Regions from separate parts of the Homo sapiens genome. Here region 1 is linked to region 2. Evidence: fine-mapped expression QTL. Tissue or cell type: whole blood. Region 2 holds a variant in brackets; the other region holds the start of a gene. All regions are shown on one strand. Distances are between the middles of the regions.

Region 1 (4,159 bases), 93 kb before region 2:
ATCTCGGCTCACTGCAATCTCTGCCTCCCGGGTTTAAGTGATTCTCCCACCTCAGCCTCCCGAGCATCTGGGACTACAGGCGCGTGCCACCACGTCTAGCTAATTTTTGTATTTTTAGTAGAGACGGGGTTTCGCCATGTTGGCCAGACTGGTCTCGAATTCCTGACCTCAGGTGATCATCCACCTCAGCCTCCCAAAGTACTGGGATTAGAGGGGTGAACCACCGCGCTTGGCCGATTTTTTGTTTATTTTTTGAGACAGGGTCTCCTTCTGTCGACCAGGCTGGAGTGCAGTGGTGTGATCATAGCTCACTGCAATCTCAACCTCCTGGGATCAAGCGATCCTCCTGCCTCAGTCCCCTGCAAGGAGCTGGAACTACAGGCATGCGCCACCCAGTCCGGCTAATTTTTGTAATTTTTTGGAAGGGGACCCAGTTTTGAATTAGCTTCTGTTGTTTACTTCGGATAGCCATGGTGGAGCTGGCAGAGATTTAGGGGATACTAAACACCCCTACAAATCACGCCTTGAAACCCCCCGTTTCAGGGAGAGCCGCTGGCGAAGGACTTGATGCGCAGCCGCAGCTCGGAAGCGGGGGGCTCCCCTGCGACACCTCCCCGCTTCAGGGGCGGGCCCAGACCCGCGGGGAGGGGCATGGGCGGGGCCGCGGCTGGCTGGCGGCCGCCGGGGCGGTGCTGGGGAAACCCTTGGCGCCCCCGCGGAGCGGTCCCAAGGAGGGGGCGGTGCCTGGAGGGATGGTCCGCCCCGACTGCGGGTTTCTAGCCCTCGCGTGGCGTGGGGACAATTAGGCGCCACGCCCTGTCGCTTCACTGCGCGACGCTCGCGAGGCCGGGGACGCCACTCCCAGACCGGGCGGGACGCGCACGCTCACAGTGAGGTCTCAAAAGATCCCCACCTCAGTTTTCTCATCTGGAAAGTGGGGCCTCGTAATCCTGTCCGACCCGGCGCGGGACAGTAGGTGTCAGGGATTTTGGTGACCCCACGCTCGAGGCCTCTGCAAAAGGGGGCTGTCCAGTGGCCCAGAGACGCAGCCGGCGGGGCTTTTGTCTAGCGGGGGAGTCTTAACTGAGAGGCCACGCAGGCCGGCAGGAAGCCGCTCCACAGGAGGGGGCTCAAGGAGAGGGGATCTCCTCCCTCCAGACTCCGGCCCCGCCAGAGTAGCTCTAGGGTATCTTCCCAGAAACTGCCCCGCACGCACTGGCGAGCTGGGAGCGCCACCACGGCTTTCAAAAAACCCGCACACACCAAGATAATAATGTGTCGTTCGCTCGTTTCGCGCAAGCGGAGTCGCGTCCGCCTTCCCGAGCTCCGGCACACAGACCTCAGGCCGCTCTCGCGCTCTCCGGGGCCCCGAGAACAATGCCCGTCCTCTCCGCGCGCAGGAGGGAGTTGGCGGACCACGCGGGGTCGGGGCGACGGAGCGGGCCCAGCCCCACGGCCAGGTCGGGGCCCCACCTCTCGGCTCTGAGAGCCCAGCCGGCCCGGGCCGCGCACCTGTCAGGTCGGGGGACCTACGTGCGCCGCGACACGGCGGGAGGCGGGCCGGGCCAGGCTCGTCCCCTCGGCCCTCCCGGAACTAGTCTCCTAGGCCGCGGCGCCCGCCGGAGCGGAGAGGGCTGGTGCCCCGGAGCCTTCGAGTCGGGGGCTAGAGCGGCCAGGCCTCCGAGCCGGGTCGAGCCGAGGCTGGCGACGGCTGCGTCACGCGAGGGGGCGGGGCTGCCACGGGCGGAGGTCGCAGCCGGAAGCGGAAGAGGCGCTCGGAGCGGGGAGTGGGGCCTAGCTGCAGCCGGAGCCTGGGAGACGGTAAGTGTGGGCTGGGGTCCGCGGCGGCGACAGCGGCGGCGGCGGCCGGGGGTGAGTCGGCGGGGCAGGCGCGCTGGTGCCATTCGGTCTCGGCCTACTCCCTTTCTTTCTCCTCTTCGGCCCATATCGGGCCGCGACCTCTCACCCCTGACCCGCTGCTTCTGCCCCGGAGGGCGGTCACTGCAGACCCTGACCTCGACCCCACGGTGTTGAAGGCGGAGCCTGAACGGCCTCTGGGGCCGCTCAAGGGTCCAGTTTGGGCTCTGTGCCTGCCCGCGGAATGGGGTCGGGGTCCGACGTAGAAGAGCCAGAGAAGCCCTTCAGACCCCTCCCCTACCCCTGGCTTCAGGCTTAGTCCGCAGATGACTCCTCCCTTGGCGGCCTGGAGTTTGATTCTGGCCCAGTCCGGCTTTCCCTCTGTCCCCGGGTCTCCCCTCGGCGCCACTGGTGGCGGTTACAGGGGATGGGACTCTGAGACCCCCTGGGACCTGGGGCGGCAGGAAGGGACGCGAACGAGGGCGCAGGCTCCCCTGTGTGTTTTGTTGTGGTGGTAGAGCCACTCCAGCCCGGAGGATGGGCTAGGCCAAGCTGACAGTTCAAATCCCCTGGCTGCTCCTCCGTCCCGCCCGGGAGTCTCTAGCTTTAGTTCCGGGTGTGGGTGCCCTGATGTGGAGCTGGGGTGGAAATTGCCTGAACCAGGCCCCCATCAGAGGCGGAGTTGGCGGCCTTCCAGCTTCCCTTCTTGATGCCCTTGAAAAGGAGGAGCGTTTCACCGTTGGTGGTGGAGGCTTGCGAGGTGGCAGGTTTGAGGTTGCAGTGGTAGGGCAGTCCAGCCAAAAATAACCATGGGTGCTGGGGTGGCTGGAATCCGGGAGGGCAGCCGCTGACCTGGCTGGCTGCACTTCTAGTCAGCCCAGTTCTCTGGCCAGGAACAGCAAATGAGAAGCCGACAAGGCCTGTGCTCAAAGTTGACATCCTTGGCTTGGTTTTCTTCATATCACCTTTTTCCTCATTGTGCAGAGCAGAGCTTCCCAAAGCATAATTGTGGCCTTTAGCTGCTTTTTAAACAAGCTGTTTGCTGAGGTTTTCGAGAATCAGAGATAATTGAGAAATGGGCCCTAGAGCCCTGGCTGGGAGGATGATATCTGCTATTTCCAATATTTTACTTGCCTAGAATGTGTTAAAGGAAGGATACTCTTCTCTGTTATTGCTTTGTGTGTGGTACCTTATAACTCTCATGCTTGTCATCTCTTTTGCCAGGCTGAGAGATGTTATCTCCATTTTCCAGGCATGCTAACCAAGGCCTAGAGTGACTTGTCTAAGGTCATGAGGCTGGTATGTGACAGCACTAGGATTTAGTTTAGTTTTCTGCCAGAGCTCTTGCCTCCCAGTTTCCTTGGAAGGGACTTATAAAATGTCTGTAAGGCATTTAACACAGCCCTGAAGTGTTACCTGGAACTTTCAGATGTTCATGAAAAGCTGCCACTAGTACCTCTGTGGGCACAAAGCTGTGCTAGGCATTTCACTTATAGGAGAGAGATATTTAATCCTCACAGAACCTTGTAAGAGATTACTATTCCCTTGTTGCAAGATGAAGCTGACGGTCAGAGTAGTGTAATAATTTGTTCAAAGGCACACAGCTAGAAGTGGCAAGCCATGATTCAGATTGACATCTATATGACTCTGAAATTTTGTTTTCCATTGATGTGAATATGTATGGACATAAGAATCTTCTAGGTCCCAGGAGGTAGTCTTTGGCGTGGTGTGACTGTGACTGTGTCCTCCAGCTCTGGTGTTTGTCTGCCCAGTGAGGATGGGCAGGACCATACTTGCCTTGTGGCACGACATGTGCCCTGGCCAATAGAGCATCTTCTGGGTCAATTAGTGGGGTGTGAGTTCCTGCTTTCATTCCATAGCTTGGGCACCTGACCCAGAGTAATTGCAGGAAAACAGTGAAATATTAGTCAGCTGATTACCAAAACAACAAATCTAAGCTTTTGGGGAGGTGATTTCACAAAATATTTATCTCCAAAGACTTCCCAGGTACACGGGGGAAGACAAGTTAGTGGGGAGATGGAGGGCTTTCTTAGGGACACGGAGAGGCTCCCAGGGGTTTGGTCACATAGGCCTCACTGTCCTGCTCAAGCATGGGGAGCTGTTCTATGCTGCTTTTCTCCTGACAGACCCTGCTGGTGAGATGGGGCAGCCTCAGTGGGTTTGTACAAAATGTGCTTGGCCAGGCAAGCTCAGGACTGACCATGACTGGAGGTTGGCTGTGGCCAAGTGTGAGTGTTGGGAAGAAGGCTGGCTCCATGGAGGCAGTCAGGGATTGACGTAT
Region 2 (4,159 bases):
TAGCTTTGTGTTTTGGCTGCAATCATCTGAAAATAGCTTTCCCTTTCGACCTCATTTTGTTGAGATAAGTTTAGGCATGAAACAGTAGTCAGGTGCAGTAAGTGGGGATCCTGAATCCCAGCAGATGAGGCTGGATGAGGACCTGACCTCAAGGATTCTTGTTTGTTTCCTCCACCCATCCACAACAGCATGCCTCTCTCCCTTATGCCCTCCCTCCTGCTGCACCCTTCCCACAACATCCTGTAATCCTTGCTTCTTCCTTGGCCTGCTTTCTCATGCTCCATTCTCTATGTCTAAACTAGAGAGAATTCTCTTAATTAAAACTGGAGCAGGGATGGATATTGAACATAAAGAACGGGATGGGGAGGGAGAGTGGGCTGGTGCGGTGGCTCACGCCTATAATCCCAGCACTTCAGGAGGCCGAAGCAGGCAGATCACTTGAGCTCAGGAGTTTGAGACCAGCCTGGGCAACACAGCAAGACCCCATCTCTACAAAAAATACAAAAATTAGCCAGGCATGGTGGCATGCGCCTGTAGTCCCAGCTACTTGGGAGACTGAGGTGGGAGGGTTGCTTGAGACCAGGAGGTCGAGGTTGCAGTGAACCAAAATCATGCCACTGCATTCCAACCTGGGTGACAGAGCAAGACCCTGTCTCAAAAAAAAAAAATTAAAAATTAAGAAAAAAAAGAACAAGGGGGAATCCAGAACGATGCTAGCTAATAGAGGCACGTGTGTTGCCAATTTGAAAAGACATCTGAGGCTGGGCATGGTGGCTCATACCTGTAATCCCAGCACTTTGGGAGGCCAAGGCAGGTGGATCACCTGAGGTCAGGAGTTTGAGACCAGCCTGGCCAACATGGTGAAAACCCATCTCTACTAAAAATACAAAAATCAGCCGTGCATGATAGCACGCACCTCAGGAGGCTGAGGCAAAAGAATCGCTTGAACCCAGCAGGCGAAGGTTGCGGTGAACGGAGATCGCGCCATTGCACTCCAACCTGGGCAACAAGAGCGAAACTCCATCTCAAAAAAAAAAGACATCTGAGAAGAGAACAGACAGCTGTCACTGCTGTGGCAGCAGCCCTGCCTCAGGTGTGTGGCCCCTCCCAGCTCCAGCCGCTTGACCTCTGCTGTCTGCCCTCTCCCATTCCCCTCCTGGGATACACATTTAGAGAACAACTGGCTCAGCAACAATTAGCCTTTTCAGAAATGCCAGTGAGTTGCCACTTCTTACTCCTGTGCTGGGGCTTTTAACCGTTTCAGGAGTGCCAGCTTCCCCATCTCCTCTCAGCTTCACAGGCAAGCCTGAGGGGCTGCGTGAAGACAAGTGGCTCTTGGTTTTCCTTACCTGGACCTGCAAGCCAACTATTAAAGTATTCAGGAGAGATGATCTTGCTGTGCAGGCACAGAACTGGACCAGACACAAGCCCAGATGGTGGAGGAGAGGGGGTGGGTTGGGGAAGCTTCCAGGGTCATCATGGGAAATAGCACAGAACATGGGCTCCCTTCTAGATTCCGTGTATTCCTGGGGACCTAGAAGCCAGGTGTCCTCCCCAAGCATCACAAGGGTTAGACCACTCTGCAGGGTATTTAGGAGTCCAGGGCACTTCTGTGTGTTACCCACAACCCAGATGGATGAAAATTGCAAGGTGTATACTTATTTGCTGCCTTGTTCTCTGAGGGACCCGTCTGCCTCCACTACCACACACTTCAGTCTTACATCCTGAAATATCTGACATCTGACATTCCCCCTGCAAGAGAAGTACAGAGAAAAGTGGAAAGTGAATGAATTATTTTGCATGCTGGGTAAAAGCATTTAAACAAATGGTGATTAAACCCAAAAATGTTTCACAAGACCTGTTTCACAATTTTTCTGCATTTATAATAAAGTAGATCAAGTCTTCTTATGACTCAGTCTTCATAAGACTCAGTCTTCACAGATCCCACCAGGAGATGCTCTGGAAAAGTTTCGACATGGAGATTGACATCTTTATTCATTCCTAATCCAGTTCTTGAAAAGAGTAAACAGAGATATGAACAAGAGACAAATACATTTATCCAGGGAGGCAAAACAGTATTCTCAAAGTCACCCAATCAACCAAGACAGTTTCTAGTGAAGACCTGATTCATCAACAAATCTTTTCTTCTTCTCCTTCTCCTTCTTTTTCCTTCTTTCTTTTTTAAGACAGGGTTTTGCTCTGTTGCCCAGGTGGGAGTGCTGTCATGATCATGGCTTATTGCAGACTTGACCTCCCAAGCTCAAGCGATCTTCCTGCCTCTTTTTTTTTTTTTTTTTTGTATTTTTTGGTAGAGATAATCTCACCATGTTGCCCAAGGAGTCTCACTATGTTGCCCAGGCTGGTCTCAAACTCCTGGGCTCAAGCAGTTC[T/C]CCTGCCTCAGCCTCCCAAAGTGCTGAGATTACAAGCATTAGCCATCACACCCAGCAATCAACAAGTCTTTATGTAATGCCCAAAATGTGCTCAATCCCAGTGCTAGGAGCTGGGATGGAGGCAACAAAGAAATTGACCTGCCCCATTTAAGTGTCATGTATGGTTCAAAAATTGTATGAACCATACATATTCAAACCATACATGGTTCAAAAATTAAATTTAAAAAAAAACTGACGTGCCCTGAAGAAGCTTATGGCTCATCCAGGGAAACCAAATTAACACAGGGTATCAATTGTCCATTGCTTTGTAACAACTAACCCAAAATTTAGTGGCTTAAAATAACAACCATGTACTGAGCTCACTAGTCTGTGGTTTAGGTGGGTATACTGCTGATTGGGGTGGGACTGGCTGATCTTGGCTGGACTCACTCAAGGAAGTTGGCTAGAGTCTGGCTGGTCTATGGTGGCCTCAACCAGGGCAATTCCTCTCTGTTTCATATGGTCTTTTATCTTCCAGCAGGCTCCCTGGGTTTGTTGTTGTGGTCGTGGCAGGATTCCAAGAGAAGGTAAAGGTCGATGAGGTCTCTTAAGACCTGGCCTCAAAACTAGCATGCCATCACCTCCAATGCATTGGACTGATCAAGGCAAGTCACCAGGCCAGCCCAGATTCAAGGAGGGGGAAAACAGACCATACATTTTCACAGGAGGATATGTAAAGTCACTTTGTAAAGGGAATAAATACAGGAAGGAAATAAAATTGGGCCACAATGACACAGGAAGTAACAAGAAAAACCAGCAAGTGGCTAAAGGCCACTCTGTGCTGGGAAGAAGTTGACCAGGTCCCAGGGCTAGAACCCAGGCCAGGCTTCTTGTCATAAGTCAGGGTAGCAAACCACTCATACTGCTCCCAGTCCCTCTGGGAAATAGTTAACATTTGTTGTAGGCCGACAGCCAGTGTCAGTTTCAAGAAGGCTTTTAAAGGTGGGTGGTGCTGGAGGTGGTTCCCAGGCTTGGAATGGGAGATCCAGCATCTCCTTTGGAACTCTCTGTGTCCTTCGCTCCTTAAACAAGCTAGATAGGCACTCCTGGGCCCCCCATTTTCCAGATGAAATTGGGGCCCTGTATGGAAGCTGCCAAACCGTTTTTGAGTCACTGAGGAAACCCTTAGATACTCTCTCCTCTGTGGAGACCTACAGACTTCCTGGATTAACCATAGCAGCCTATGCAGCCTGATCTCACATTGACTCTTCTTCTTCCTGTCATCCTTTGGCTATGATTTGGCTAGGAATGGATACAGATTTATTCTGATGGAGCAGGCTTTTGTTTACTCTCCAAAACCTTCAAGGAGTTTTGTGTGTGTGTGTGTTTTGCCCCAAAATTACATTTGTTATCTGTAGGAGGGTTGGTTTGTAAGGAACTTACCCTGCCATAAGCCACATAATTCAAAATAACTGTTAATTTTTTCCCCGAATTAAATCTGCTGTAAAAATTCTATGGTATGAGAGGCATCATACCATAGAATGAACAGAGTACTGGACTTTAAAACAGAATACCTGATTGTAAAAATTCCATATAATCTTGGAATTGAGAAGACCTCCTTAATTGTCGTTCAAAAATCCAAAAACCATAACAGAAAAGATTAAGAAATTCTACTACATAAAAAAAACCTATCCATATTAAAAGCCACCATATTCAAAAAGTCAAAATACAAACAGGGAAAAATATTTTCACATCACAGACAAATATCTAATCTGAATATATAAAGAGTC

What was found. PIP is the estimated chance that this variant, and not a neighbour inherited with it, causes the effect.
Region 1: it holds the start of CLK3-AS1, and the variant in region 2 is fine-mapped to the expression of CLK3-AS1 in whole blood (TOPMed, PIP 0.92).

What each region holds. Positions count from the first base shown.
Region 1 is chr15:74,614,078-74,618,236 of GRCh38, forward strand. It overlaps CLK3-AS1 (CLK3 antisense RNA 1), which reads right to left and starts at 1,715. Exons shown (of 9, transcript XR_007064715.1): 1 at 1-1,715. CLK3 (CDC like kinase 3) reads left to right here and starts at 1,759. Exons shown (of 13, transcript NM_001130028.2): 1 at 1,759-1,821. RefSeq lists silencers at 534-853, 1,274-1,813 and enhancers at 1,902-2,513, 2,514-3,124.
Region 2 is chr15:74,707,309-74,711,467 of GRCh38, forward strand. No RefSeq gene overlaps it. Among named protein-coding and RNA genes, the nearest start is that of EDC3, 13 kb to the left of the region's middle. The variant T/C (reference allele first, on the strand shown) is at 2,391.